Regions from separate parts of the Homo sapiens genome. Here regions 1, 2, 3 and 5 are each linked to region 4. The links come from fine-mapping of genetic effects on gene expression. A gene starts in region 4. Each other region holds a variant in brackets. All regions are shown on one strand. Distances are from middle to middle. Region 1 overlaps STX6 (syntaxin 6). Region 2 overlaps MR1 (major histocompatibility complex, class I-related). Region 3 overlaps STX6 (syntaxin 6). Region 4 holds the start of STX6 (syntaxin 6). Region 5 overlaps KIAA1614.

Region 1 (6,043 bases), 31 kb before region 4:
GCTGATCCAACTTGTGAACAGTCAGCGGGGCTTGAAACCACCAAGAGAGATTTACTCTGGTTGGCTGACGTCCAATAATGGAGCAGACAATGGTTGAAAGCACACGTGCAGATGACCATTGAGACATGGGGATGTTTGGGAGGAGGAAGCCCATTGCCAAGATCAAGGTCTCAATCCACAACAGACTGCCACAGCTTAAATACAAGAGAGTCTGGCAAATCTCTGGATGTGGGGAAACTATGCAGTCTTTCCTCTCTCTTCAAGGACAAACGAAAGGATTCCCTGTGGCAATAAGTTACCTCAAGGACAACTACTGACTGACAAATATTTACTTTTAGTTGTGTTGCATTCTTCTCACTTTCTATAGAAAAAAAATTTCCTGGGTTTAATAGCAATTTAAGTAGACAACTGGTTAAGCAGACATACTAATGTAAAGAACAAAAGAACATATAAACTACATGTATACATAAAACACAATATTTAAGAATCAATAGTTTCAATGGGTACATGCTCCTCAAATCCCCAGACACATTATCATTAGCTTGCTTTTATTAATACAGCTACATATCAAAGGCATCAACAGACATAATCAATTTCATTTTCCTTCTACCCCTTAACCTACACAAAAGCAGTCATCTTTACATATAACAAAACCAACCAATAGGCCGGGCGCGGTGGCTCATGCCTGTAATCCTAGTACTTTGGGAGGCTGAGTCAGGTGGATTGCCTGAGCTCAAGAGTTCGAGACCAGCCTGAGAAACAAGGTGAAACCCCGTCTCTACTAAAATACAAAAAAAAAATTAGCTGGGCGTGGTGGCGTGCACCTGTAGTCCCAGCTACTCAGGAGGCTGAGGCAGGAGAACTGCTTGAACTCGGGAGGCGGAGGTTGCCGTGAGCCGAGATGGTGCCACTGCACTCCAGCCTGGGTGACAGAGTGAGACTCCGTCTCACAAAAAAAAAAAAAAAAAAGAAACCAATCAATAATTTTCGAAGAAAAAAATGAGAGATCTTTCTGAAAGTGTCTTTGCTGAGATGGACAAAGGTCTGTTTTTTCTAAGAGAACTAACTGAGCTTGGTTCTTTATTTTTTTAGAGAAAGGGTCTTGCTCTGTCACCCAGGCTAGAATGCAATGGCATGATCGAAGCTCACTGTAGCCTTGAACTCCTGGGCTCAAGGATCCTCCAGCCTCAGCCTCCTCAGTAGCTAGGACTAAAGGTGTGAGCCACCACGCCTGGCTGAGCTTGGTTCTCTTGAAGCAGTCACACTGTGAAGATTTTGAAACCCTTTACATATGCAATTATTAAACACAATCAACACAGGACAAGCTCTGGCTTACCCTCCTTGTCACTAAGCCACAAGACCCCATGGCTGGCAAAGGAACTAAGGGGGTGTCTTGTTTCCCACTGGCCCGTCCTAAGTCTGGGGTCCTTGGGGTACCTGCTGCTGTGCCTGCTGCTCCTCAATGAAATGAGAATTGGCTCTCTGGAGCTCTCGGTCCAGACGCCCATATTTATCTGTTGTTCCAGTGCTCCAGTTCTGGCTGCCACTGTCTCCCAGCAGTGCCTGTGTGAGAAGAACAACCAGAGGAGTCAGGAGAAACAAACAATTACTATCTCTGAACAAGTGATGCATCAAGAGTGATATAAAGAGTTTTCACATTTCTTGTCTATTTTCCCCTGGGCAAGGCTTTTATGTAGTGGTGTAGGTTGGTGCCTGGGTGGTACTATTTAAGGAATTCCAGGAAGGGCCCTCTATGTCTTTAAGCTCTCCCAATAGGCCTCACAATGGGCTTTGTCCCCTTAAAGTGCAAATAAACGTCTGCTAAATCAACAAACACCCATCTATATACTGTGTTATAATTGAAAAGCATTCAATCTCTTGTAAAAGAGCTCTTCCTGGTACCTGTGGAACTTCAGCAACCCATAGGTTCCAGTCAACCTGATTCCGAAGATCTAGAGTACTTTTTTAAAAAAAGTGTGACCCAGGGGAAGTTGTGGGTTTTTTTGGTGGGGGGAAAGGGAGAGTTCCCTGGAATGACAAGAAGGTAAGCCATAGCCCTTCACACACAAAGGCACAAGAACCATCAATGTCTGTTAAGTTTAACCCATGAATAGAATCCAGGGTCCTTCAGGCTTTCCAGATGACAACTGGGGGTTACTTTACAGGCAGGTATGACCACAAGGAATGCCTGACCCTGGCAACCGAGGCAAGGGCTGCCCTAAAGTCAGAGTTCTCCACCAGGGCTCCCAGACACAAGGGTCGGGTTTCCCAAGTATGAATTCAAGGAAGTTTGCAGCCATAAATGGGTATGTCTTCCTCACATGAA[G/A]AAGACAGGCAGGAATGTGAGAGTTCCATCTCAGCAGTTGGTTCTGACCAGATCCCCACAAGCCTTCCTGACTGGTCAAAGTAACTGCTCACACCAGCCCCGCAGGCAAGAGCCAGAAGACGCTAGCAACTAAGACTCTTTTTCCTTGTAGAGTTGCCAAATTTTCCTATCGGGTAATTTAAAAAAAATCTCAGGCACTATTAAAAGCCTGCCTGGTTACTTGGTTCTGTCTGAAAACCCTTCCAACAGCCCCATGACCTTCCTCCATACTGACACTGACCTCTTCTCAGACTGCGAGGGGTGAACTCCATCAAATGGCCAGACTTCAGGGGCTAGGATCAGGGAAGCTCAGTTATTAGAAGCTTTTCTTACAAGAGCTTCCAGGGGCCCAGAGCTTCAGTCCAGCTGGATGGTGACTGTCTCTGGTGTAAAGCAGATCCAAGGCTTTTTGTGGGTGGCTCTGCCCTGACCTGGTCTTAGGGCTATCAAGACTGAAAAGATCCTGCTCATTATGATCCACACTCTAAGGACCTCTATGGAAGACATGAGGAAATAGTGACAATTTTTTTAGGGTCAGAAAAATGCTATAATGCATCACTGGCCTAAGGACAGAGAACTGGGACACCACCAGGGCCTTGTGTGCTCCTGAGGTCACAGGGCTATTTTTCCTACGTTTTCCATGGTGTACACTTAGGTAGAGCTAAGTATAGGGCAAATCATCCACGTTTTATTGTGAAATAGCTTAAAGTTCATCAGTCTGATCCCAAATGTTTGTGATAATAGGATAGAGATTGAGAGAGGGCCCAAGGACTGGAAGATGCACCTGTGTGTGGGTGCCAGAGCAGGGGTGCTGGTGAGGCAAGGAGCAGCACAGAGCCTGGCACCTGGCACAACGTGGCAAGGCCCATGCCTGCTGGAGTGCTTAGAGAGCCCTGATCCTGCTATTCCTTGAAAATTTGCAACTTGACATTTCACTCATAGCCTAAAACAAAATTCCAAGCCATAACTAGATAGGCAATATATAAATACATACATGTATATATACTTTATATAAAATATATTTAAATTTATATATATATATTTATAAATATATAAATATAAATTTTATTTACGTTAGCCCAACTATACTATCTAGAGAATAAAACATTCAAATTAAGAGTAACAGCATAGGTGTTACTGACCTCACTGTCACAACTACTTCAGTTACTTCCACTTCCTATAAGCTCAAGTGCAAATGAGAAGAGAACTCCAAAACTAGCCAACTTGAGGGCATTCACTAGCTTCTTTCAAGAGAGGGAGCCAGATGGAATGGACCAGCTAGTGGCTTTTCCTAGCTATATTGCTCAAAAAGAAAGCAAAGGAGGCAAATAAGATTAAAAAGCCAAAAACAAAACAATGACTTGAAAAATGGAATGCAAGAAAAGGAAACAGGAAAATTAAGTTAGGTGATATTTATAGAACCCTGCCCCTTCTTCAAGCTTCCATAATATTTGTTTTCAAAATTAAGTGTCTTGACAAATACCCACAGGTATGAAGTACTGATTGCTAGTTAGTATAAATAGTGAAATTTCTCAAGAGCCTACTAAATGGACAATTCATAACTTTCTGGAATCTTAATAAAATGAGACTAAGGTAAGTCATTTAAAGCAAATAGTATCATTTTTCATGAAGTCTTTTTTACTTCTAAGGAAAATGGATATCCACAGAATTTAAAAAACTACTTCTGTCAAAAAAATTACCTAACAGTTTAGCAACAGGCAAAAACATTCTATCCCACCAAAAAAAGTCTAAATCAAATCTCAATCTAAATGAAAGTCCAAATTCTAGATGATCATTCTACATTTTTTAAAAGGACTGTATTTTAACAATTAGAAAGGAGCTTCTATCAATATGCCAAAGTATGTAATTCTTTTAAAACTACTTAAAACAAAGAGAAACTTAATTTAACACACAAGTTTAAGGTTCCTCTAATGTCTTTACATCAAATGTCAATCCTTAGATGTCTAATGTGTTCCATGGGTAGGCAATGTAGTAACTGCTAGAGAGCTCAAAACAAACAAACAAACAAGAAACAAAAAACCATGACACACATCTCTCCTCACTGTCAAAGGGCCTGGAGCCCAGCAGAGAGAAAGACAGTAATTATAGCCCTTCAAAGAGCCTGGCACACAAAATGTGTTCAATAGGTACAGAATAAACACATTAAAAAAGTAAAAGTACTCTGTGATAAGTGCTATAGTAAGGGTAGGCAAAAGGTGCTATGGAGCCCAGAGAAGAAGACCAGAGGGTAAGAGGAGGGGAGGGAAATGTTGACAGGGTGCTGGGACAGGCTGCCTGGACTGTCACAAAACCTCCCATGGTCACACCAGGGCCTGCAAGCAGAAGTCTTCCTCTTGATTACATGATCCATGGATGGTCAGCATTTTTAAATTCCAAATATCTAACTGTATGCTTTCTGTCATTGATAATTATATTCTGATGTTTTCTCACCTGTCTATTTTTTCTTTCAGCTAATGCCTGCACAGATGAAGTTGACATCTGATCTTTCATGTCCTAATGAGAAAGAAGATACGAAAACAAATGAAAAATATCCTTAAACAAAATCACAGTTAACATTTCATACATTAGCAAAACACACAATTTATTATTACTTTTTAAAAAGAAGACCGCATTTCTTGGCTTTATTTTCAGTCTCAAAAATAAAGAAAATAAAATAAAAAGAAAGATGGTCCCTTAAAAAGAAGTAACCTGGATACTAATTTGAATAGGAGGAAAGAGAAAGGAATTAACATTTACCAGGTACCTACCACAGGTCAGAAACAGTGCTAAACACATACACACATTATCACTGAATTTTCACAAGGACCCTGTGAAGCTGGTACTATTTCCATTTTAAGGTTGAGGAGACCTAGGTCCAAAAAGACGATGATACTTTCTCAAAGTCACATCACTAATAAAGAACATCCCTGGGGTACAAACACAAAAGCACGTGTTCAAGGGCTTGCATCTTTTTTACAATATATGTAAAAAACCATGTGCTTTTAGTATAAAGTATATTTACCATTAAACACCAAAGAATACTTCCAAATAGTGGTACAACAGGTCACTTATTTTATTTCTGAGTTGGATTCATGAAAGGTATAGACTATTCCTAACATCAGAGTGAATTTCCAGAGTGGTGTCAAAAATAATTTTGTATGGAATGAAAAGTGAATAGATCCATTACTTTATCTGAAGCAAAACACTTTATTAAATATGAGTCATTCTGCTTATTTAGCTACAATCCAATCTACTATAGAATGATTTGAACTGAATACATGACTGCAACAACAGTTTTTAAAAGGTCGTCAAAATATAATTTATGCAAACATCAAAGTGTAAGACTTTTAGAAACTTCTTTAAAGACCCATGACAAGTAAACAGATGAGACAGTGCCACCGCTTTTACAATCCCAGAACTGTGGTAAATGTGAGTGAGAACCACCTGATTCAACTTTCAAACCACTCATCTATCCATTTAGCAAACACTCACTGATGTCTACTATGTGGCCAGGCATACAGCAGTGAATGATACTAGCTAGGCCCCTGCCCACATGGAGTTCACATCATGATGACATGCCTGAGTCAGTCACGTGAGTGTTGTTAAAGATGCAGTTCCCCTGGATGTCACTATGCTCAGTGAAATAAGCCAGGCACAGAAAGACAAATACTGCATGTT
Region 2 (6,043 bases), 25 kb after region 4:
CAGACTCCAGGCACCCAGGAACCTGGAGTTCCCCACTCAGCTGACTCAGAGCTGCTGAGGTTTACACAACAAACTCGCACTTTGGCCCATCCTCCTAAAGGTGGACTGGCTGCCCTTGAGGGCCTTGCTAGGCCTGAGGGGTGGCCAAGAGGTGGGAGGATCACTTAAGCCCAGGACAAGCTCAGACAAGAGGCAGTTTGTGGCTGAGCCTGAATAAAAAAGTAGAGGTGTTTAATTGTGGGAGGCCCTTGGCAGTGCTGGAAGGAGCAAGAAACAGGAAGAAAAAGAGGTGAGTCTCAGGCTGAGGGCCGGGGACTGGAGGGAGACACCAGCTTTCTCTGTGCCGCCCCATTCAGGCCCAGAACTTCACACAGTGTGAGATTTTTTAATTTGAACTTGGTCTTCGAAGCCATACAAAGGGCAATCTCTCAAGGTGGGGGGATAGAACATATTTCAAGTTTGTTAGATTGATTTATTCCTTTTAAATATCTGGATCTCTGGTATGTGAGCCTCCATCTGTCATCTCAATTTAGCCATGAAATTTTAGGGATGATCCTGTTTTAGGGATGAAATGTTTTTGGAGGTGGGTTTTGAGGACTGGGAAGGATTTAGATGGGTCAGAATGGCAGGAGATAACAGGACAAAAGGCTTGGACATGGGCATCTGCAGACACCGGCAGGCAGAGTAGGGGAAGAAAGCCATTGTGGCTGCATACCTTCTATTTGCCAGCTTTTGGGGATGGCATGGGGTACGTAGCCTTCTCAGCCTGGGCTCCACCTCCCAGGCATCGCCTCTGCCCGTGACGCCTGTCACTGTGCTCCAGACGTCCCAGGCCATTTGGTTCCCATGCACGCCCCGCCTTCTCGAACCTCCTGCTTGCACATGTGGTCTCTGCCCTGCTCCCCCTGCCCGCCCTCCTGCATCCCCTCCCAGCCCCTCTGCCTACTCACCTCCTACCTGTCCCTGAGACCTCCCTAAGACATCACCTTCTCTGGAAGTCTCTCCTAAGGGCCCACACCAGCTTGGATCCCATAACACTGAGAGGTGACAGCGTGCTGGCAGTCCTCACAGCCCTAGCTCGCTCTTGGCGCCTCCGCTGCCTGGGCTCCCACTTTGGCGGCACTTGAGGAGCCCTTCAGCCCACCGCTGCACTGTGGGAGCCCCTTTCTGGGCTGGCCAAAGCCGGAGCCCGCTCCCGCAGCTTGCAGGGAGGTGTGGAGGGAGAGGCGCGAGCGGGAACCCGGGCTGCGGGCGGCGCTTGCGGGCCAGCTGGAGTTCCAAGTGGGCGTGGGCTTGGCGGGCCCTGCACTGGGGGCAGCCGGCCCTGCCGGCCCGGGCAATGAGGGGCTTAGCACCCGGGCCAGCGGCTGCGGAGGGTGTACTGGGTCCCCCAGAAGTGCCAGCCCACCAGCGCTGCAGCTCGATTTCTCGCCGGGCCTTAGCTGCCTTCCTGCGGGGCAGGGCTTGGGGACCTGCAGCCCGCCATGCCTGAGCCTCCCACCCCCTCCATGGGCCTCTGTGCGGCCCGAGCCTCCCCGATGAGCGCCACCCCTGCTCCACGGCGCCAGTCCCATGACCACCCAAGGGCTGAGGAGTGCGGGCGCACGGCGCGGGAATGGCAGGCAGCTCCACCTGCAGCCCCAGTGGGGGATCCACTGGGTGAAGCCAGCTGGGCTCCTGAGTCTGGTGGGGACGTGGAGAACCTTTATGTCTAGCTAAGGGATTGTAAATACACCAATCGGCACTCTGTATCTAGCTCAAGGTTTGTAAACACCAATCAGCACCCTGTGTCTAGCTCAGGGTTTGTGACTGCACCAATCGACACTCTGCATCTAGCTACTCTGGTGGGGACTTGGAGAACCTTTGTGTGGACACTGTATCTAGCTAATCTGGTGGGGACGTGGAGAACCTTTGTGTCTAGCTGAGGGATGGTAAACGCACCAATCAGTGCCCTGTCAAAACAGACCACTGGGCTCTACCAATCAGCAGGATGTGGGTGGGGCCAGATAAGAGAATAAAAGCAGGCTGCCCGAGCCAGCAGTGGCAACCGTCTCGGGTCCGCTTCCACACTGTGGAAGCTTTGTTGTTTCGCTCTTTGCAATAAATCCTGCTGCTGCTCACTCTTTGGGTCCACACTGCCTTTATGAGCTGTGACACTCATGGCGAAGGTCTGCAGCTTCACTCCTGAAGCCAGCGAGACCACGAGCCCACCAGGAGGAACGAACAACTCCAGACGCACCGCCTTTAGAGCTGTAACACTCACTGCGAAGGTCTGCAGCTTCACTCCTGAGCCAGCGAGAGCACCAACCCAACAGAAAGAAGAAACTCCAAACACATCCGAACATCAGAAGGAAAAAACTCCAGACGCGCCACCTTAAGAGCTGTAACACTCACCGCGAGGGTCCACGGCTTCATTCTTGAAGTCAGTGACACCAAGAACCCACCAATTGCGGACACACCACCACCCATAATGCCACCTTGAAACCACTTTGTCTCCGTCAGGCCCTAAGCTTCTTGGACAAGCGGAGAGAAGTTCAATGTGGGAACAGCAGGGAGGGCCAAACAGTTTTGTTTCATTTTGGTTTACTTTTAACCCTTATTACAATCCTTATAACTAGTAAGTAGAAAAAGAATAAGAAAATGGTTAACAGCAGTGGTTTGACATAATAGGAAAAGCACTGTGCTTTAAAAAAAAAAAAAATTTCGGCCGGCCATGGTGGCTCACACCTGTAATCCCAGCAATTTGGGAGGCC[G/A]AGGTGGGCAGATCATGAGGTCAGGAATTCGAGACCAGCCTGACTAACATGGCAAAACCCTGTTTTTACTAAAAATACAAAAATTAGCCAGGCATGCTGGCACATACCTGTAATCTCAGCTACTCAGTAGGCTGAGGCAGGAGAATCACTTGAACCCAGGAGGCAGAGGTTGCAGTGAGCCAAGGTCACGCCACTGCACTCCAGCCTGGGCAACAGAGTGAGACTCTGTCTCAAAAAAATAAATAAATAGGCTGGGCACGGTGGTTCACGCCCATAATCCCAGCACTTTGGGAGGCCAAGGCAGGCGGATCACGAGGTCAGGAGTTTGAGACCAGCCTGGTCAATATGGTGAAACCCCATCTCTACTTTAAAAATATACAAAAATTAGCTGGGCATGGTGGCACGCGCCTGTAGTCCCAGCTACTCAGGAGGCTGAGGCAGGAGAATCACTTGAACCCAGAAGGCAGAGGTTGTAGTAAGCCAAGATCATGCCACTGCACTCCAGCCTGGGCGACAGAGTGAGACTCTGTCTCTAAAAAATAAAAAATAAAAAATAAATAAAATAAATAGGCCAGGCGCGGTGGCTCACGCCTGTAATCCCAGCACTTTGGGAGGCCGAGGTGGGTGGATCACGAGGTCAGGAGTACAAGACCAGCCTGGGCAAGATGGTGAAACCCTGTCTCTACTAAAAATACAAAAAAATTAGCCAGGCGTGGTGACCAGTGCCTGTTATCCCAGCTATTTTGGAGGCTGGGGCAGAGAATTGCTTGAACCCGGTAGGCGGAGGTTGCAGTGAGCCGAGTTTGTGCCACTGCACTCCAGCCTGGGCAACAGAGCAAGACTCCATCTCAAAAAAATAAATAAAATAAAATAAATAAATAAATTTCGGCCAGGCGCAGTGGCTCATGCCTATAATCCCAGCACTTTGGGAGGCCGAGGTGTGCAGATCATGAGGTCAGGAGTTTGAGACCAGCCTGGCCAACATGATGAAACACTGACTCTACTAAAACTACAAAAAATTAGCCAGGCGTGGTGGTGTGTGCCTGTAATCTCAGCTACCTGGGAGGCTGGAGCAGGACAATCACTTGAACCCAGGAGGCGGAGGTTGCAGTGAACAGAGATCGTGCCATTGCACTCCAGCCTGGGCAACAGAGCAAGACTCCATCTCAAAAAAAAAAAAATGCTCAGTGCATGTGTTTGTGTGCCTGTGTGTATATGCCCACACGTGCACACACAGAGGTGGAGTGGGGGTCCTCATTTATTCACCAGAGGCTTCTTTGGTAAAAGAAGAAGGCTGCGTCATCAGGGTTTTCAAGCCTTCAGAGTTCCCGAGGGCTCCCGCAGGGACAGCTCCCCCTGTATCCCCAATGAGTGGTCTTCTCCCTTCCCCCTACAACCATAGCAGCACTCTATATTTTGTCTACAAGTTGAGATTACCTATAAAATTCCATCCTGCATTTGCAAACCTGAACGAGAAAGGCTCCAAGTCACTGGTCTGGAGCTCTTACGTCCTGTCCAGGCCCCGGTTCCTGGGTTCTGTGGTTCTGTAAGAGGAAATGGCAGCTGGGGCGTGGAGGCCTGGGTACAGCTGAGTAGGGAGCACTCGTGTGGGGCTAAATGAATGCAGTTGAAGGATCTGGATCATCTGGGACCCTACATGTCTTCCTTCTTTGCCTCCTTTCCAGGGACGCACTCTCTGAGATATTTTCGCCTGGGCGTTTCGGATCCCATCCATGGGGTCCCTGAATTTATTTCGGTTGGGTACGTGGACTCGCACCCTATCACCACATATGACAGTGTCACTCGGCAGAAGGAGCCACGGGCCCCATGGATGGCAGAGAACCTCGCGCCTGATCACTGGGAGAGGTACACTCAGCTGCTGAGGGGCTGGCAGCAGATGTTCAAGGTGGAACTGAAGCGCCTACAGAGGCACTACAATCACTCAGGTGTGCATGCGGCAGAGACAGACGCTTCCCCCATCCCACCCCAACCCGCAGAGACCCCTGGGCTGGCCTCCAATAAGCGGATGCTGAATTGCACCTGCTGTAGCTTTGGCAAAGCCTGAGGAATCAGGTTGGTGGAGTTCAGGGCCTCCCATCTGCCTGTGCATCTTCTGGACTGTCCCTCTCTCCCCCAGGAGCACTCTGTCATTTGCCCCACCCACTCTTCCCCATCTCTGTATCCGTATCTGCATCCCATTTCCACTCAGGCTTCTGATATGCATCTCCTTTTCCATTCTAAATTTGCCCATTCTGCGTCTCACTTCCTGGTAGTCAGGCCTAGTGACTTGCTTATGAGTATCGACAGTAACTTTCCCAGGGGTATTTCTGGCTCCTGCATCTCTCTCCCTCCTCCACTGCAGTCAGAATAGCCACAAAGTTTATCAGTCATTCCCATTACAGGATAACTCCCCAAGGCGGGAATTAGCACACTCCTTTGACAGGCAGTAGGTACTTCACAGATACCTGCTGACAGGTGGGCTTCCATAAGGGGGACCTCCTGGGGACTCAGCGATGCCATGGCAGGCCTGGGGGGTGACATAATGTAGACCAAAGGATGCTTCCAGCCATGCCCCTGCTCCCAGCACTTGAGAGCCCACCTCTGTCTCTGTGTGGACCCCTCTGGGCTTCTGTGTGTGTTCCAGGGTCTCACACTTACCAGAGAATGATTGGCTGTGAGCTGCTGGAGGATGGAAGCACCACAGGATTTCTGCAGTATGCATATGACGGGCAGGATTTCCTGATCTTCAATAAAGACACCCTCTCCTGGCTGGCTGTAGATAATGTGGCTCACACCATCAAGCAGGCATGGGAGGCCAATCAGCATGAGTTGCTGTATCAAAAGAATTGGCTGGAAGAAGAATGTATTGCCTGGCTAAAGAGATTCCTGGAGTATGGGAAAGACACCCTACAAAGAACAGGTAAAGAGAAAGAGAAGGCCTCATTCCCACATTGCCTGAACAACTGTTTTTATACGTAACTCTTTTAATCTAGGTTATATCCACTGTATCCTGAAAGCCATCTCTTTAGTTGGCCTATTGTGATCTCATGGCTAGAGCCCCCACGAAAACTTTCCCTGGTTACTTTTGAGCAGCATCTTGACAAGATTTGACAGTTCCCCTTGTCTTGACAGAGTGGAGTACCTCCAAGGGCACCTTGTTTTTAGGGATCTATTGAGGCAAATTCTTCCATTCCGTCAATGATAAGCTGGGAAATTCTTTGGGAGATAGAGCAATTCTTACAAACTGTTTAGTTAACAAAGGGCTCACACACCACCAGTAGGAGTAAAAA
Region 3 (6,043 bases), 47 kb before region 4:
ATACTGTTGTCCTGAGTAACAGTATCTCTAAGCTGAGTTACTCTGATCGGAGCTACTGAAAGGTACCTGCTTTCAGCAAATTCTGGTTTGGTTTTATTTTTTAATCAAAAAAAAAAAAAGGAGAGAAAGAAAAGAAAGACCACCCCCTATTAGAAGCAAAGGCCCTGGGAGGAGTAAGGCCTGTCACTGGGGCAGGGGCACTGTCCTCAGGGGCGGACTTTGCTCAGGGATGGCGCACAGTGACTGCGGGGGCTTAAGTCCGGTAACCCTTTGGTTTTATTTCTTTTTATTCTTGATGGGCAAAAAGCCTCCTTTAAAAAACATTATTCTTAAGAAACCTGGGAGAGAAAAAAATGCCAGTGAGAGGAAGACAAAGAAAAATTAGAGGCAGTACATTCCATATTTCAGAACTTTAGCTTTCCAGACAGTCCAATTTTGTTTTGTTTACAAATTCATCTTGCAGTACAAGGTGAAGCCAAATGGTACAAAGTCCACAGAATTGAAAAGCCATTCATATTTATCATTCAATTTTTTGATCTTCAAATGTTATGAATTCTCCAAAAAGGTAACAGGGAACAGATATCCCTTTGGTCTCACTTTATAGACAGGGAAATTACCAAAAGAAAAATCTTGGCTCTACCATCTCTACTTACAGAAGGTAAAACACTTAACAGAGACAGATTTCTGTTGGAGTTAGACTAGATTTCTTTTCACAGCCCTTAATCTCACGAGGTGAGAAGGAGTGGAAGTTGCCAAGTTGTTGGCTACCAGACCCATCAGTCTGTTTAACTCTGGCTAAAAGCAGAGAATAATGGGCAAGTTACCAAGTTTCCCCCTTCAGCTCTGGCGTGCATTCTGAAATTGTGGAAGATCCTCATGTAACACACACGCTGCAACCTGCATTTGCCACACAGTCCAGGGCATATAGAGCATTGTGATTCTTCACAGTCCGCAGAGACAAGACCAAAAATGAGGACTAAAAACTAAAGGTAGCTGAGTTTTTCAGATGGATTTTCACTCTGGCAAACTCAGTAGTTCACTCCCTCCCACCCCTCAAATCATTTAAGTAAAATGTTCTTCCAATAAACATAAATTGAGCTCTTCCTCTGTTATCCATCACATTCTGCCAGTTCTTTAAAACTGGAATATGGTACTAGGTACAGAAGGCTAAAGGGGTAGGAAAGCCCCAAATACTATAAAGATGCACTTATAAGCAGTGTGGGGTTATCACCACTGTCTACTTACTCTCCCATTCTAGGACACAGGGTGAAGAGACCACCTGGGTTCCCTCTAAAGCCCTGAACATTAGGACCACTGAGGAGGAAATATTTGTCCTTAAAAATAAATGTAGGTTCCCTGGATTGTTCTCTTTGGCTGCCACATTTGGAGCCTGAGTGGAGGCCCTTCAAATTAACACTGGTTCTGTAGGGACTGCCCAGTCAGGGTGCAATGGGATCAGACACAGGATCAAATCAGCCAGGGGCAGAAGGGCATGGTGGCCCTACGGGTAGAATGCACTGTATTGTTAGTTAACTTTCTAAATTGTTCTCTATTTAGCTTCAGCCTGAGTCAGGTCTACAATGGCCACTATTTAGAAAATAATTTAAATCAGTGAGGTAAGCACGCCGATTTGAAATATATCCAAACATCATTAAGCCTCTGGGTCATAAAACTTGGTCCCTGAACTAACAGGAGTATCTTACTCATTAATGACTAGGTTTGTTCCAAACGGCCCCTGCTGACACACATGATCCTTTTGTGTGGCACAATAAATCTGGTAATAGCAGAACAATAGCATGGCTTTTAAATAGGGTAATTTTATAATTCCTTAAGATGCTGGTTTGCTTCTTATAATGTGTTGTGTGGATTACAGTACTTAGACAAGGTTCACATTTACTTTAAAAGACTTCTATATTTTAATGCAAATCTAAGGATCATCCCCTTTCTTAGTTTATAGAAGATTCAAACTTTGTAAAACATAAATAACCTAGTACTCTAAACATCTGAAGCCCTTTGTAATACTCACTGTTTTTTCCTAATTTGAAAATAACTTATTTATATATCAAACATTAGAGCGGAGTGTAAACATGGATGTCAATCACCCTTTTAGTTTCATAAATTTGCTTTTAGCTTTCATCAACAGGCATATTTTCTTAACCTACCATGATCTCAAATGAGATAAAATATCCTTCTTCAAAAATTGTTAAGAATATTTATTAAAAAGTGCAATTCAAAAGTTAGCTGGGCAAGCACATCATTGCAAATCACAAAAAAGGGTGAAAAAACCAAAACCCCCAAATAAAACCACATGAAATACAAACAAAACAAAACAAAAAGGTTTAAAAAAAAAGTGTGCTGAGGAATGCACCCAAAAAGACAAGGAAATGAGAAGTCAAAGCTAGAACTCTATCCAGATGTTGCTGTTCTTTCCAAGTGCAAAAGAAGGTGGTGAGGAGAGACCAGCAGCCTCCACCACCGAGTTCTGGCTCTGGGTCCAAATACTACTTTAATATCAGATTATTCATCAGGGAAGTTATAAAAATATCCTATATACATGTGCACATTTGAGGCATTTTAAAAAGTCATCAGAAGGTTAAAGTTTAGTGTCTCAGCAGTTTCAGCTACTTAAACTCAATTAAAGCATCTATCATTTAAATTTGGATTGGCTCAGTTATTTGACTGCAGATGATAAAATCAAGCTGTCATCTTAGGGAAAAAAAAGAACCAAGTTTACCTACACATCCTTGCCATTACCCACAGAGTAAGAGAAGTCTGGCCCAGAGCTAACCTTTTATGTCATTACGTTTCTTAATAAATGTAATAAATGTACTAACCACTCCCAACCCCAACCCCCAGTGTAGAGTGCCCTAAGAGTAAAAGAACTGTAATGAGGACAATCTGGTATCCAAATTCATTCAAGTGTGTTACTGAGCTGTTTAGCAACAACATATGTAGCAATCACCCTCAAAACGCAAGCTGCACCTCTGGGGAGGAAGCCCTGGTACAGCAACATCAAGTCGGCAAGGATCAGGAGCTGACCTGTGGCGACATCATTAACCCTTCCCTAAGCTATGCCAATGCAGAACCCTCTTGCTCTTTTTAATTGCTCCTGTCAGTTAAAGCCACAAGTTGTTAGCACCCCCAAA[C/A]CCCAGGGTGTTTCATTATTTTCCATTAGTTATTCTTACCACAAAAAAAAATGACCTGGAAAAGCAATTTTATCTTAGCATTTATCCCTGAAAAATGAAACACTGCATTTTCTGTCACAAACTGTTTCTGAGCCTTCTGTCCTCAATAATCATCAGCTCTCAGGGGATAAGAAATGCTACAGCAATGGGAAACGAAACATACCCAGAAGCTCGTATTCCTGACAGGTTTCTTTAGATGGGACAGCGGTGCACTGTCTGAGCACGGGGAAGGGTCTGAGCAGAAGAAAAGAGCTGCCAAAGATGCATGGAATGAGCAACAGCAAAACACCAGTGGAGTCTGTAAGTCCCTCCTCAGCAAACGAGGTCCCGGAAGGCAAGGCAGCAGCTAGTTCTCCTCCGAACTGGACAGGCGGCATGGGGCTTCTGTTGTCCAGCTGCAGCCAGGAGTGCAGACATCTATTTCCTCTTCCCACTGGCCCTTCCAGCGCTGGGATGGAGGAGCCATGTCAATTGTGGGGTCACACGGAGAAAAGTCAGTGCAGCAGTATGTTTCCAGGATAGGAATGTGAGTAGACGGCAATGTCACACGTGCTCAGCTTCTCCTCCTCCCCTCGGTTCATATGCAGGAGGAACTCGCACCCAGAGGCCCCGCCGTCACAGCACTAAGAAGAGGATGAGCACAACCAACAGGACTGCAAAGAGGATGGCTATGGCACACCATTGGCGCCGATCTGGAAGGCAGGACATGGGGATTAGCTCTCACAGGGACTCCACATTCCCCAAGATACAGTTATATGGAATTTATGGCACCCTTTGAAGCAGAAAAGGGGCAGAACGTGCAAATGACGGGGCCATGATCTTACACCTGCCTAGGTGCCTGATGCTCTAATGCTGCTCTGTTCTTGGCCTGCACTTCGCATGCAGTCACAACTTTGCCAGTCCCCTGAAAATGTCTCGTAATAATTACATGCTTTGTGTCTCAAGTCTTTAATTAAAATCTGCGGATCTTAGCTTTCTGCTGGTAGTTAGCATATCCTCAAAAAAGGTGTTGGCAATGGTGTTACAGATCAAAGCCTGCCTGCTTTAATCTCCCATAAAAGTCAAGTCATTTAATTAAACAATAATCACATTCTTTTCTCAATGAGCACAACGGGAGGAGGGAAAGGAGATGAAAGCTACTGCTGGTCACTTCAGGAAATATACAGCTGAAAAAGCAAGCTCCAGTGAGACAGCATGATTAATTTCACACCACACCTAGTCAAGTAAGATTACTTAACTAGTAACTGTGTTAAAGTACCTTGTACAGCTCCTCTGTAAATGAAAGTGGAATTTTTTTTCTGAAACTTTCTGCCCTACCAACAATTTGGAACAGCAGGCACAGGAAACAACTTGACTAGAGTCCATCCAAATGGCTGAGAGCAGGGAGGCCCTGTGAGACAGAAGGGCCCAGACAGGCCCTGGGGGAGCCCTGCTGCAGCTCACAATCCTGTGGTCCCAACTCTACAACAGCTGCCCCGCAGGGCTGTTGTGAGAATTAAACAACACAACCCTGTCATACACACACTGTGCAATACCCAAACCTAGGGCACAGAGGATGCTGTCAACATCAGGATGCTTCCTTAATTTGGAGACATGTAGAAAAAATGAGCAGTCCTTCCACTGATGAGTTTTGGCATCTTCCACAAAGGGCCCGACTGATAACAGAATTCACTAGCGTATGAAAATGCAGTACAACCACTAGGAATAAGAGTTCCATTTAAATAGAAATATAAAGACATATTGATTCACTAAAGTTTCTTTGAAAGCCCACTGATTTTAGCACACTATAGTTATTGAGAATCACGTTGCAAAAAGATCTCAATCTATGAAAATAAACTGCTAAACTCTCCACAAGGCAAAACATGTACTTAAAATTATTTTAAATATTATGGATATCAAAGTCTTAGAACTGGACAAGAGAACTGCCACCAAATTATAAGTAAAGCAAGTACCTTCTAAGTGGTGATCACCTTGGTCTACCTCAGACATACTAGAAACTCATTTAGTTAACTCTGAGCAGGACAAAGACCCCAGGTCCATCACTCGTTGTTCTCAGGTAGGACTGTTCCAAAGGTCTAGGGAAGGCAGAGATGGCCTACTGCAGGTCACACTTTGACCTGTTTAACTATTACTTCAATGGTCAAGAAAACTTTTATAACTGGCATTCTCTCATCTGATTAAAAATGTTAAATTTTTAATTTCCAGCCAAGTATGTAAGAAGCTTAGAAGTCATCACTCTGTCGTAACAAGTAAAAAGCTGAACAAACTGAAAAAGCAAAACTCTTCTTAGATCCATCAGAGAAGTGAGGTCACATGGTAAACTGCTGCCCCTAAAACTGCAGAAACCTACAGATGCATACAGAGAATCACAGCTTATCAGAGCAGAAACCCACGAAGCAACAAACTCCATAGGAACCAGTGTTCTGGTAGGAAAACCTTAGCTTTAATTGATGAGTCGCTGAAGGCTCAGTGTGGACAAGTCTGAGATGAAAAACAAACAAACAAAAACACTCCAGGTGGACCCAGGCGAAGGGGACCCCCACACTTCTGTGGGTTTTACCTCCAGGAGCTTGACCAGGTTCTCAGCGAATATTGGGAAAAATCCCCTCATGCTTCCAGCAGGCGGAGGGGAAAAAGAATCACTACGAAATACTCCAGAGCACTCTGTTCTAAACAAAGTCTGCCCTCAAAAGAAACTAACCAGAGTCTGACTAACCTGGGGGAAGGAAAATACCCAACTCCAGTCTTCTCTAGCCATCCAGTTCCACCTAACAGTAGAAAAACTGGGAAGCACTAGTGAAGTTCACGGGCCAGGGGCACAGGCTCACCAGAGGCTAAGACCTAATCACAGGACTAGA
Region 4 (6,043 bases):
GCGTGGGTGAATCAGGCAGTGTGGGTGCATGTAGAGTAAGAGCATCCAGTACAGCAATCACAGTCACTGTATTGAGTCTGGCACTGCTGGAGTACTAAGGCTAAGGGAGAGCAGAGGCTAGATCAGTGAGGTCAGGAAGTGTTGGCACTTTATTCTGCAGGCCAGCAGCAGCCACTGAATAATATTAAGTAGGGTACACCTGTCTAGGACTCTAGAAAAGCTTACACTGTGCTGTCCAACACGGAAGCCACATACAACTACTGACTGGAAATGTGGCTAGTGTGACAGAAATTAAATTTTAATTAATGTAAACTTGGTAACTGATAGCAATTCAGTTATCAAAAACCTTTTATGTATGTTTGGAACAATTAAAGAGTATGTAGGCCGGGCGCGGTGGCTCACGCCTGTAATCACAGCACTTTGGGAGGCCGAGACAGGTGGATCACAAGGTCAGGAGATCGAGACCATCCTGGCTAACATGGTGAAACCCCGTCTCTACTAAAAAATACAAAAAATTAGCCGGGCGTGGTGGCGGGTGCCCTGCCCATAGTCCTAAAAATACAAAAATTAGCCAGGTGAGGTGGTACACACCTATAGTCCCAGCTACTCAGGAGGCTGAGGTGCAAGAATCGCTTGAACCTGGGAGGCAGAGGTTGCAGTGAGCCGTGATTGCACCACTGCACTCCAGTCTGGGCAACAGAACAAGACTCTGTCTCAAAAAAAAAAAATGTATTTAATGAACTTTAAATACAGATCAATTATTTCTGATGAAAATTTAATGTCCAAATTTAAATGTGCAGTAAGTGTAAAATATGTATCAGATTTAGAAGACTTAGTACAAAAGTAAAATATCTCATCAATAATCTTTAATCACATGTTGAATATTTTGAATGTATTAGAGATTACATTAGAATTAATTTCACCTGTTCCTTTATATTTTACTGCGGCTACTAGAAAATGTAAAATGACATACATGGCTGGCATTATACTTCTATTGGACAGCAATGATCCAATAGATCCCAGGACAGCTGAAAGAGGAAATGAGACCAGAAGCAGGAAGAACAATTAAAAAGACTCTGATAAGCATCCAGGTAAGAGAGACAGGCCTGATTATCTAAATTCTGCCCATCTTCAAAACCTAATTCAAGATACACTACTGCCTCCAAAAGCTCTCCTAATCCTAACAATTCCCAAGGAGTTACCTTTCTCTGAACTCCTGAGGCACTTATCTGTAGCATTCACTTCAACACTCATTCATTTGCCACCTGTCATTTCTATTTAATTTTGGGGTAATTTGTTTCTCAGATTAGACCAGAAGCTCCTAGGCTAAGGGCCATAATTTAGGCACCTTTAATTTTTGCATGCTGTGTAATGCATTTTTGATACTTTTAATAAACACAGGTACATGACTCCCCAAAAATCTGGATACACCTTCATGGGTGACTTTACCTTTCCACAGCAGAAGGAACTGAGAATCTCTTTTCCTTCAAGAACCTTAAAGATAGGAGCTAAAATGATGTAAAAATCAATCAAAACTCCCTCCAAGCCAATGTTCCGATAAAGTAGTGATATTTAATCAGTGAGCAAGCATTAGTAGACTGTATAGGATACCATCAAGAAAAAAAAATGCCAAGACAGAAGAATTTAGGCTTTTGACAAATTCCATAAAAAGTCAAACAAAAAATTTCTGATCATCTCTGATCTCTACCGCCAGAGATAACCTTTGCCAACCTAAGCATTAAGAACTTTCAATCAAGGAAAAAACATCTATTTTAAAAATTAACCCCTAAATCAATCCTTCTAATAAATATCACATTTTCTAGGTAGGGATACACATATTACCAGTAAATTTACAACTCAGCATTTTCCCATCTAAATTAGAGTAAGGTGAAGAAAAAAAACTTTCCAGGGAAATATTAAGAAGTAGTATAAATGTATTTTACTGCATAATCGATAAAGTATTTCACCTAAAATACCATTTAAATTTTCTACAACACTTGACTATACAACGGCCAGCTTGCACCACTACAGAAATAGGAAGCTAGCAGCAACTAGTAAAAAGCAAGGGACATTCTGTGGTGATCAGTACTGACCTGGGAACTTTGCAGTTTTCAGATTTTTCATGTTTGACATTTAAAACAGAAAACTGACAAGTTTCTAATAAGAAACTAAAAGTTACATCAGAATTGATCTTCTTGCATGTGTTTAATGGCTACGAAGTGGATATTACAAAGTGCAGTTGAAGACTCTATCTCCAAAGAAACAATCGAGCAATCAAAGATGAGCTAGGATAGCTTGTAAGGGAACAGAAGGCAGTCCTTTCTATTCTGAAAGGCAGAAGAAATAGGAGAAACCTGTCAAACAACCTGGATGAAATCAAGGAGTTAACAAGCAACACTCATTTCCTTTAGCACTGTGAGAAAATTCCGGTTGCTAATAGAAAGCTGAGGAAAGTTTGGTTTGGCTTGTTTCATTTTGTTTTCCTTCCAAATCATCACTGAGTATGAACGACTGCTTTCCTCTCCTCACATTACTCAGTAAAAACTCCCCCATTGAATTGTCTTCCGGTGCCCTGCTCCCCAGCCTCCCAGAACGGCCCCCGCCCCCGCCTCCCTCCCAGCAAACGTGCTCAGACGCCTCTGGGCTTGTTGTGGTCTCGCCAGTCTGCGGACAAGCGCTCCAAACTCAATGGACAATGGAGCTCACCCCCGTCAACGCGAACTACAAAGCTCAGGAGGGCCATTTCCCTTTTCCTGCCCAGATGCTGTTTTCGCTCCTTCGAAGCAAGATCCCATGCTCGACTAGACGGCCAGTGTGCGCCAGGACCCGCGTGTCTCCTTCCCCACCTGCAGAGCTGCTGAGCCCCTCGGCCCCCAAATAAATTGTACCGCAGCACACAGGCCAAAAAGGGCCCCCCACCACCAGGGGCTTGGCTGGGGACAGTGGCTTCACGGTCCAGGTAGGGATGGAGGGAACGTCTCTTGACGCTTGGTCATGGCCCTCAAGACTAAGCCGTCTCCACTGTTCCCCCTCCCCAGCTCCAACTTGCCTCCCCTCCCCCCACTGCGAGAAGACCTAGGAGGTGCGGGCAGGCAGCACCGCCACCTCTTCCTCCGGTGGAGCGCTCGGCCGACACTCACCCTTTCACCACAAAGAAGGGGTCCTCCATGGACATGGCGTCCCGGCCCCGGCCGCCTTCACCTCCTCCGCGCACAGGGCGCCCGTGCCTCCCGGTCTCCCTCCGCCCACCCCGCCTGTTCCCGCAGCTGCCCGCGCCTTAGTCTGGGTGAAGCCGAGCAGCGGGCACGCGCACAGGCCAGGTGCACAGGACGGCCGCTGGTCCAGCACTCGCTCAGCACCACTGGCCGAATCCCGGACTCGGGCGCCGGCCCCCTCGGCAGCCTCCAGTCCCGGCTCCTCCCGAAGCGTCGGAGGGCCTGACCCCACCCCCGGGACCCTCGGCCGCGGCCAATCACGAACGCCGCCTGAAACACGACTTCCGCACCCCGCTCACGTGACCAGGGCATATATCTCTCTCTCTCTCTCTCTCTCCTCTCTCTCCTCTCTCTCCTCTCTCTCCTCTCTCTCCTCTCTCTCCTCTCTCTCCTCTCTCTCTCTCTCTCTCTCTCTCTCTCTCTCTCTCTCTCCCCCCCCCCCCAGTGGGCGGGGCTTACGCCTGCGTCCCTCGGCCCTGGAGGCGGAGCCCTCGGGGCGGTGGAGGTGGGCGGGCTTCTACAGCCCTCTCCTCAAGCTTGAGGGTGAGGAGTGGCTTGTTCCCTCAGAACTAGGCAGTCGGCTTTTCAGGATAAGCTGTAGTTGTACCTGATTTGCAAAATCCTCTTACCTTTCCTCTACTTTTAATACTTAATTTTGACAGTATGTAATTTATAAATCTATCTGGTCCTCGACTTAAAATGAAGCATAGTATCTGATTATAATGTTACACAGATCCTTTAAGTAGGTCTTGCTTTGTGTTGGACAGTGTGCTAAAGGTTGTGTATGCATCATCTCAGTATCCTTTGGGGGAAAGTATTATTCCCCCCTCCCCCTTTTTGGGGGGCAGGGTCTCTCTCTGTCACCCTGGCTGGAGTGTAGTGGCACAATCACAGCTCACTGCACCCTTGACCTCCTGGGCTCAAGCGATCCTCCGGCCTCAGCCTCCCGAGTAGCTGGGACTACAGGTGAGCGCCACCACGCCCGGCTAATTTTTAAATTTTTTATAGAGATGGGGCTCTCAGTATATTTCCTAGGCTGGCCTTGAACACCTGAGCTCACATGATCCTCCTGCCTCTGCCTCCCAAAGTGGTGGGATTATGGGCGTGAGCCACCACACCATCCATTTTTCTCATTTTGTAGATAAGAAAATAAGTTCAGAGAGGCTTGAAGACTTCCTGTAGTCACACAGCCTGGACAGGGCAGAACTGCAGATTCTGTGCACTTTCCACCAGATGGGGTGTACTTTCTGTTGCTGTACATTCTGCAAATAACCATGTAAAGTAATTTTTCATACAGCATATGGTGCTTCCCAGGAGAGCACACCTTCGAGGAATAAAGAAGGGGCCAGGTATGACAACTTCCTCTCACTGTGGTTCAAGAGCTATTCGAGAAAACATTTTGCCCAGAACCATTAACCAACTCATATGCTAGATATGCTATGAAATTTGTGGATGGGGATTGTGGACTTTGATTGCTGAAAATCATTGAGCACTTACTGTGTGTGTGTGTCAGGCAGGATGTTAAGTGTTATCTCAGTTGCTCTTACAATGTGATAATTACTGCTATCATGCCCATTTTATAAATGAGAAATCTGAGACTCGGAGGTTAAGTGACTTGCCCAAGGTCACCAGTCTGGAGCTGGCACAGTCCTTGGAGCAACACAAACCCCGTTTAAACCTTGGCTCTATCATTCAGTTCCTCATCTATAAAACATAAATAATAATAGCTAGTTCATGGGTTGTTGTGATGGTTAAATAAAAATGTGTGTAAACCTCAAGATCCCAAAGGACTAAGTTACTGAAGTCAGGAAAACCAGTAAGGACGCTGCTAAAGTCATGTGGCCTGAAGGGATGAGGTCCAGACCAGGATGACAGCGATTGAGAACAGAGAAGGAGTGAATCTGACAGATGTTTCAAAAGGAAAACAAGACTAAACACCTAGACATGATGAGGGGCTGAATGGGTTTCAGGAGGGGAGAGAAGAGAGGGGTGAAAGCCAAAATCCCTGGAGGAGCGAATGATGGAAGGCAGATGTGGGGAAAGGAAGCAGTGTCCAATACTAGTGATTGCTAATGTTTATTGGGAGAGAACTGTTTAATTTACTTAGCTGGGGAGGTGAAAACGTGTCATCGTTCATTCATTCAACAAGCACATGTAAATTGAGGGGTAGGTGAGCATGGTGTTGAAGACCATCCTTGGAGTCTGATTGCTTGAGTTCTGCTGCTTCCTGACTGTTGCATCTCAGGCAAGCCGCTTCATCTCTCACTATCCTCAACTGTGAAATAGACACCGTAATAACAGCTTCCTTATAGAGTGTCATGAGGTGATGTGTGAAAAGTGCTTAAAACAGTGCCTGACACATGTTGTGCTCCTACTGTGTGCTAAGCACTGAGACACAGGCATGAACAAGGCTTGGTTCTTGCCTTCAAGGAACTGTCAGACTGGTGGGAGAGACAGACTGGTGGGAGAGACACACAGTGAGAGAAGGGCACAGGTTGCCATAGAAACACAGCGACAAGATACCAGTATATTTGTGTGTTTTCGGGGCTGGGGCAGGGGGTTCCTAAGCAGTGACTAGAAGCAGCCAGGAGAAGGGGGCCATGTTGCTGGAGTAGAAGGAAAAGGATGGGGGCAGCAGGAGCTAAGCCTGGAGGTGGACAGGGTCAGATTATCAGGGCCCTTGTTTGTAATGTTCAGAATAGTGGACGCTTCCTATGGACAGTTCCCCATGGGGACTGAGGGAATTGACAGGGTCAGATTGGCATTTGAGACAGATGCTTCAGTGGCTAGGAGGTTATGGTCCAGAGGAGGGATGAGGGTATCCTGAG
Region 5 (6,043 bases), 72 kb before region 4:
TAGCATTTTTCTTCCCTCCCCTTCAGAAAGAGAAAGTCTGGGGAAGAGAACCCCAGACAGGGACCAGCGTGATCCGCATTCACCTGTCGATGTGAGTGCACACACAACAGGTCATTGTACTCTGCCGCCCACCCTCCCCCAGAGTCCCTTTTTGCTCCCTTGTAGGCAGTGGGAGCCCCTCCCTGTCACCCGTCAGGGAGCTCTGATGGGCAGGGGTCTCTAGTGACCCAGGGCCCCCGGCACCCTCGCCTGAGTTGGTGCCAGCTCCCCGTTGTGCCCAGGCACTCCCTGGTCCTGCTGCCATCATGGGCGCTGGATGGCACACAGGGGTCCCCACGCACATGAAGCCTGGCGAGTGCTGGGGCCTCCGTGTCCCAGGCCATCCTCCAACAGCAGAGGGTCGCTTCTTCCAGGCTCCAAGGGGCTGTGAGGAGGGCTGGCTTGCGCCCCGCACTGAACCGGCAGGATGCTGGTATTAACTTGCTGGCTTTCACATCCGACTCTATATGAGCCTGTGAGAACAGCAGGCTTTGCCTTCTGCTTCTAATTGGATACAACATAGAGATCACACATCCTCAACAAAGGCCATTTCCAGCAGACAATAAATGCCTATGACAGCAGGCTGTCATATTTGTGTCACGAATTTCAGTTGCGAAACCTACCCGAGTCTCCCCAAAATGGCAGGCGTGACGTCAGTGTCTGGCCTAGCTCTGGCAGCATTCTTTCAGGGTTTATCATTAGTCCCCACCTGCAACTCCCACAGCACATCAGACACTTCTCTGGGTTTGCCCCAGGGGCCCCTTCTTACCTGCCCCCTCCCCGTGCCACCAACCCGTAGACAGGGAGGGCAAGCAGTGAAAGGTCCATCTAGAGGAGGTAAAAGACAGGGCTGAGGGAAAACGCCTTGTACAGTCAGGATGGCAGATGTACTCTGTCAGGGAAGACAGCCCCACAGAAAAGGCTCGGCTTGGCCAAGAAGCAACAAAAGGGATTCTACACCTCAGACCAGGGAGGGGGAATGTGTACAAAGATTGGATTTACTAAATTCAGAGCCACAGACTTTCAGGTACTTCGGTGAAGATCAGTGCTCTTTCAAACCCACACTTCAGAGGCAGGCTTTAAAACGCCTGACTTCTGTCAGGGCCACAGGCTGGGCTGCCCAAAGCTCCTACGGGGCTGGGGGATCCGAGAGAGGACTTCCCACTAGTCCAAGATGTGGTGACTAGTTTCAAGCCAGAGATTGAGGAGCAGACCTGATGCCCTTTCGGGCCCCTGCTAAGAACCTGATTCGAGGAAAAGGAAGTGAAGACAGTAACGCGTGGGCAGTGGCCTCATGTCTGAAATGCAGAGTGAGCCGAGCTGGGCTGCGAACAGCGAGGGTGCCAAAGGCTGCGCTGAGCAGCCTGAATTCCGCCAGTGCTGATGCCCACACCAGGGGTGTGCCCCGCAGTCCCTCCAGCAAACTCAGCTTGTGTCTCAGCCCCTGTGTCCACCCAGCATGAAGCATGGGCATCAGGGGGTCCAGCCTGCCCTGGGAGAGCCAGCACCTCACTTACTCTCCCAGGTGGGAGCAGCTGGAGGGGAATTTGAAAGGTTTCCAGCCGCGGTTGAGGCCGGCGGGCGGGGGTTGGGGGCAGGGGGCCTCCTCAGCTGGACACTTCCCAGCCCAGCCAGCCCAAGCCCCACAGGGCCTGCCCCACTGACGGGGGGCTCCCTGAGAGCCGGAGCCTGGCAAAGAAGCAGAGAAGCTAGTTCCCGCAGGCTGGCTCTTGGCACCTTCTAGACCCAGGCAGGGCCTCTTTGGGGTGGGGAGGAGGGGGCATGTGCAGAAGAGGAGAGGGAGCCACCGCAGCTTTGAAATATGTGGCTAGAATTTTTATTTTTCCTGGGGTTTTTTGCTCAGATGCTTCCCCATCCCAATTGAGGAGCCATATCTGAGTAAGACTGAGGCCAGTGTCAGTCTTTGGCAATAGAGTGCAGCAAACCAGGCTTGGATGTGGCTCAGCCACTTTTGCTCTTCCGATGATACCTTCCCACCACCCCGGCCTTTACGCTGGGCCTGGGTGACCTGAGGCAGCAACTGGATCATAGTGCCAGGCACTGAGTAGGTATGGTTCCTAATTTTTAAAAACTATTTTCCTCCCAATTCTACAAGAAAAGCTCATCTCAGAAAAAGATTAGCTCACTCACTGTCAGGTATAAATAAATGACAACAGTTTAACGCGTTATTTGCACTAGGAGCATTTCCACTTTAAAAGCAGAGACAGTGGAATGGAGTTAGACCATGGAGGAGGCGCACTGTATCTATGTCTAAAGCCAGTTGTGGTTGTGAGATGGAATAATGAGGGGTGTGTGTATGTGTGCATGCGCACAGAGAAGTGCCTGGTATGAGCACCTCCTCCCTGTGCCACACAAACAGCACCTCATCAACATGGTCAGCATTCCAGAGATGCACTTCTTCGATTTGGGTGTCATTGTGAAATTCTCCTGTTTTCCTCTGCAGGGATCTACGTGCAGGAGATGGCTGACATGAGCATGGCCAAGCTGTACTCAGGGCTGCTGGGGGTGGGCGATGAGATCCTCGAGGTGAACGGGGCCAAGGTGGCAGGGCTGGGCTTGGCTCACATTAAGGAGCTCCTGGCCCACTCAGAGAGCTTGTCAATCCGTGTCCTGAGGCAGAGACCTGTCCCACGGTGACCCAGAAGTGCCGCTGCCCTCACTGTCACGGCCTCGGAAGCCCTGAAGCACTCAGGGTGGTTGGCAGGAACGTGCTGCACAGAGCTGCTCTGTGGCGGAAACAGATCCTGGCAGCATCTAACCCCTTGGGCTGTGGCAGGGCTTCTGTGGTGGGCTGCCTTTGGGAGACGCAAGGAGCCTGTTTGCATATTTTGTTTAAGGCCATTTATCCAGAACTAGAAAAAGAAAAAAATGGGTCTCCTTCCATGTCTGAGGGGGTGTCAACATCTACTTGTACCTTTGTTGGCAGGGGGAGAAGGGAGATTCAGTGGATCCTTTGGTTGATGCCTGAGAGCCGGCCTCACCTCCTGGTCCCATGCCTGGTCAAAGGCTACAGCCTCCAACACTGTGGAACCAAAGAAAGCACATGTCCATATTGGCCTTGACCCTTCCCTATTTCAGCCACGTTCCTCCCTACTCCATTCACTGCCCTTGCCCTTTATCCAGAAATGGGCAAAGTGTCCCGGAATACCAGCCTTACAGCCATTGACCATATATGCCAAACCAAAATCAGAACGTGTGGTCTGGCAGGAGTTTTATGCCCCTTCGGGGTGTGGGAATTCTGGGAGATGTTATCTGGTAGCCAGAATATTAAAAATTTCTAGGAAAATTTTTTTATACATAAAGTTGAAAACAACAACAACAACAACAAAGACCAATTTCAGGACGTGCTACTGTGGTAGCCAGGATCCAGCTAGTGGGACCGGCCAGACCAGCCCCATGCCACCCCGGCCGCTGCCTCTGCCCAGGTGGAGGCAAGAGTTGCTGCAACCTGACCTGTGGCAGCCTCCATCTTAGTTCTGTCCAGCTTGGAGACAGGGCTG[C/T]GGCAGGTGCCTGGCCATCACAGCTGCATGCTTTCTGCCCAGACCTCCTGGCGGTGCTGTCGGTGGGCAGGTGGGTGGGTGGGCAGCAGGGAAGCTGCAGAGCGCGGCTGGGCCATCTGCCTGGGCCTCAGTGCTGCCTGGAGGGCTGGGACTCTTTGGGAGTGGATGGCCATGTGTCAGTCTTAACTTACTAAAAAGCAAAGCTAAAGCTTCTCTCACTCTGAGTTGCTAAATTCTCGGCTGGACACTCACTTGACCCTCACTAGCCATGGGCAGGACCAGGGAGTGGGGTGCTGGTGGTGGGCATGCCAGAGGAAAGGCTGGGGAGGCCACGGGTTAGGGTGACAGCCAGGGTAGATGCAGAAGCCTCCAGACCGTCCTTTGGCAAAAGAAAAGCCCTGGACAAGGTTTATGACCAGGAGAGAAGAAGCCAAGGGACTCTAGCTGGGCACAACTGAGGAGTGGAATAGGAAGTTCAGGGCTGTTTTAGAACTGGCCAGGGTGCCAGCTGTGGTTAAAAAAAAAAAAAAATCCTGGAACCAAGAAACCCAACCCTCAGCAGAATCGGGTTTAAAAGAGTGTCAGGGCAGCTTTCATTGGGCAAGAACACTGAAGCAGGCCTGTGGCCCAGGGACAAGGTCGTGGGGGTGGGGAGGCAGTCCTGTGCAGTGTTGGGAGTGTGTTCCCCCACCCAGGGCCTTTGCAGCAGGAGCCAGGTAGAACCCTGTCTTCATGATGCCCATGGGAGGAGAGGGAGGGGCTGAGCCCCATGGCTCACAGAATGGGGTAGGGGGGTGGAGGAGGAATTAGGGGGATCTGGCAGGTGAGCAGAGGGGCCAGAGGAACAAGTGCTTGGGGCTTCAGGCTGTGAAGAGGGCACTGGCACTCTTCAAAGTGTAGAAATGAGCCCACAGCAAGAAACTTCAAGTGTGGAGAAACCCTGGCTCCTCCTATACTGCAATTCTTGGCCTAAGGTCACAAAACTGGAGAAATTTCATGTTGAGAAAAGCTCCTGGGGGCCAAAGACAGCTCCACTTTTCTCTGAAAAGGACAACTTGCCTTCCCAGGTGGGAGGAGGTGGAAGGGGGTGGCTGGGGCTGGGAGGACGGGAAAAGGCCTCAGGCGTATCACCTCCCGGGCTGGTGACATACTTAGTCCTTAAATAGTCCTGCCAGGTATGTCCTGCTCATTGTCTTCATTTTGCATAGATGGGGAACCAAGTTCAGCAGCAGTGACAGGGCATGCAATCCTGCCCCTCTGACTTGGGGCCCACTTTTCCCACTGCAGCTGCCTCCCCATGCCAGAAAAGGCTTGGTGCTAGGGGAGGGGCACGAGGCACGCGGGACACTGGAGGCTCCCAGGCCTCTGGACGGTGACCTAATTCCAAGGAGGCAAAGGCGCTGGCATCCCAGCTTCTCCCTGGGGCAGCCTGATGTGCAGGCCCTGCCTTGTGTGGAAATGGGAGGGGGCTTTGGTTCCTCCAGCCTCCTGTTTGACCTTCCCCAACTGCCTGCATCTGCCTGCCTGGGGAGCTGCTGACCTCGAAGGCCTAGGGCAGCCCTGCCTCACACACTGGAACATCAGAACCTTTTTTTTTTTTTTTTTTTTTTTTTTTTTGAGACAGTGTCTCACTCTGTTGCCCAGGCTTGGAGTGCAATGGCACAGTATCAGCTCACTGTAACCTCCGCTTCCTGGGCTCAAGTGATTCTCCTTCCCCAGCCTCCCAAGTAGCTGGGACTACAGGCGCCTGCCACTATGTCTAGCTAATTTTTGTATTTTTGGTAGAGACAGGGTTTCACTATGTTGGCCAGGCTGGTCTCGAACTCCTGACCTCATGTGATCCGCCCGACTCAGCCTCCCAAAGTGCTGGCCTGAGCCATAGTGCCTGGGCCATCAGAACCTTCTTACTGAGAGCTTATTAACCAGGAACCAGGCCTAGGCCAGGCAAGAGCCCCCGGACTTAAGAAAGACCCGCAGCCTCAAGGGGCCCCAGCCCAGGGGGAGGCACACACACATTACAGCGCCGGATGCAGGGTATGCTGCAAGAGGAGCTGCAGCCGGTGTAGCCTGTGGGTAGCCTGTGGACAGCCTGGGGCCGTGATTCGTGGTTGGCCGGGTAGTTGGCAAGGGCGCCAACCGGGCAGGTGAGCACAAGCAGGGCTTTGTAAAACGAGTAGGAAGCTACAGCAAGGGCCAAGTGGCTCAGGCACAGAAACGAAGCAGCCACATGCAAAGGTGTGGGTATTCCCGGTGTCTAACTTATGTCCCTCCCGCGGTTCACAGAAGGCCCCTGACACTGGGACTACACGGAGCAGAAAGTGGCACCCCTTTGCCTCAGGCACCTCAGTCTCCTCGGGGCTTGGGGGCATTTTCAGAAGCCACCCGCAGAACCAGCGTCCCGGGCGGCGGCTGGTTTTCCCCTCTTTCCCGGGGGCCCCCCTCTGTCGCTGCGGGGTGCAGCGGCGGCGAGAGATATCCGCAGC

The links. PIP is the estimated chance that this variant, and not a neighbour inherited with it, causes the effect.
Region 1: its variant is fine-mapped to the expression of STX6 in whole blood (TOPMed, PIP 0.99).
Region 2: its variant is fine-mapped to the expression of STX6 in whole blood (TOPMed, PIP above 0.99).
Region 3: its variant is fine-mapped to the expression of STX6 in whole blood (TOPMed, PIP above 0.99).
Region 5: its variant is fine-mapped to the expression of STX6 in whole blood (INTERVAL, PIP above 0.99).

The regions. Positions count from the first base shown.
Region 1 is chr1:180,988,547-180,994,589 of GRCh38, forward strand. It overlaps STX6 (syntaxin 6), which reads right to left. Exons shown (of 8, transcript NM_005819.6): 4 at 4,817-4,879; 5 at 1,438-1,563. Among named protein-coding and RNA genes, the nearest start is that of STX6, 31 kb to the right of the region's middle. RefSeq lists a silencer at 2,263-2,423. The variant G/A (reference allele first, on the strand shown) is at 2,327.
Region 2 is chr1:181,044,614-181,050,656 of GRCh38, forward strand. MR1 (major histocompatibility complex, class I-related) reads left to right here. Exons shown (of 6, transcript NM_001385161.1): 2 at 4,439-4,699; 3 at 5,398-5,673. Among named protein-coding and RNA genes, the nearest start is that of MR1, 14 kb to the left of the region's middle. RefSeq lists enhancers at 1-229, 1,548-2,050 and a silencer at 281-430. The variant G/A (reference allele first, on the strand shown) is at 2,754.
Region 3 is chr1:180,972,770-180,978,812 of GRCh38, forward strand. STX6 (syntaxin 6) reads right to left here. Exons shown (of 8, transcript NM_005819.6): 8 at 1-3,877. The coding sequence ends at 3,801. Among named protein-coding and RNA genes, the nearest start is that of KIAA1614-AS1, 21 kb to the left of the region's middle. The variant C/A (reference allele first, on the strand shown) is at 3,147.
Region 4 is chr1:181,019,499-181,025,541 of GRCh38, forward strand. It overlaps STX6 (syntaxin 6), which reads right to left and starts at 3,372. Exons shown (of 8, transcript NM_005819.6): 1 at 3,141-3,372. The coding sequence starts at 3,175. RefSeq lists an enhancer at 3,112-3,895 and silencers at 3,304-3,433, 3,554-3,653.
Region 5 is chr1:180,947,837-180,953,879 of GRCh38, forward strand. It overlaps KIAA1614, which reads left to right. Exons shown (of 9, transcript NM_020950.2): 9 at 1-3,778. It overlaps KIAA1614-AS1 (KIAA1614 antisense RNA 1), which reads right to left. Exons shown (of 2, transcript NR_145481.1): 2 at 1,854-3,082. Among named protein-coding and RNA genes, the nearest start is that of KIAA1614-AS1, 4.0 kb to the right of the region's middle. RefSeq lists an enhancer at 1,589-2,139. The variant C/T (reference allele first, on the strand shown) is at 3,561.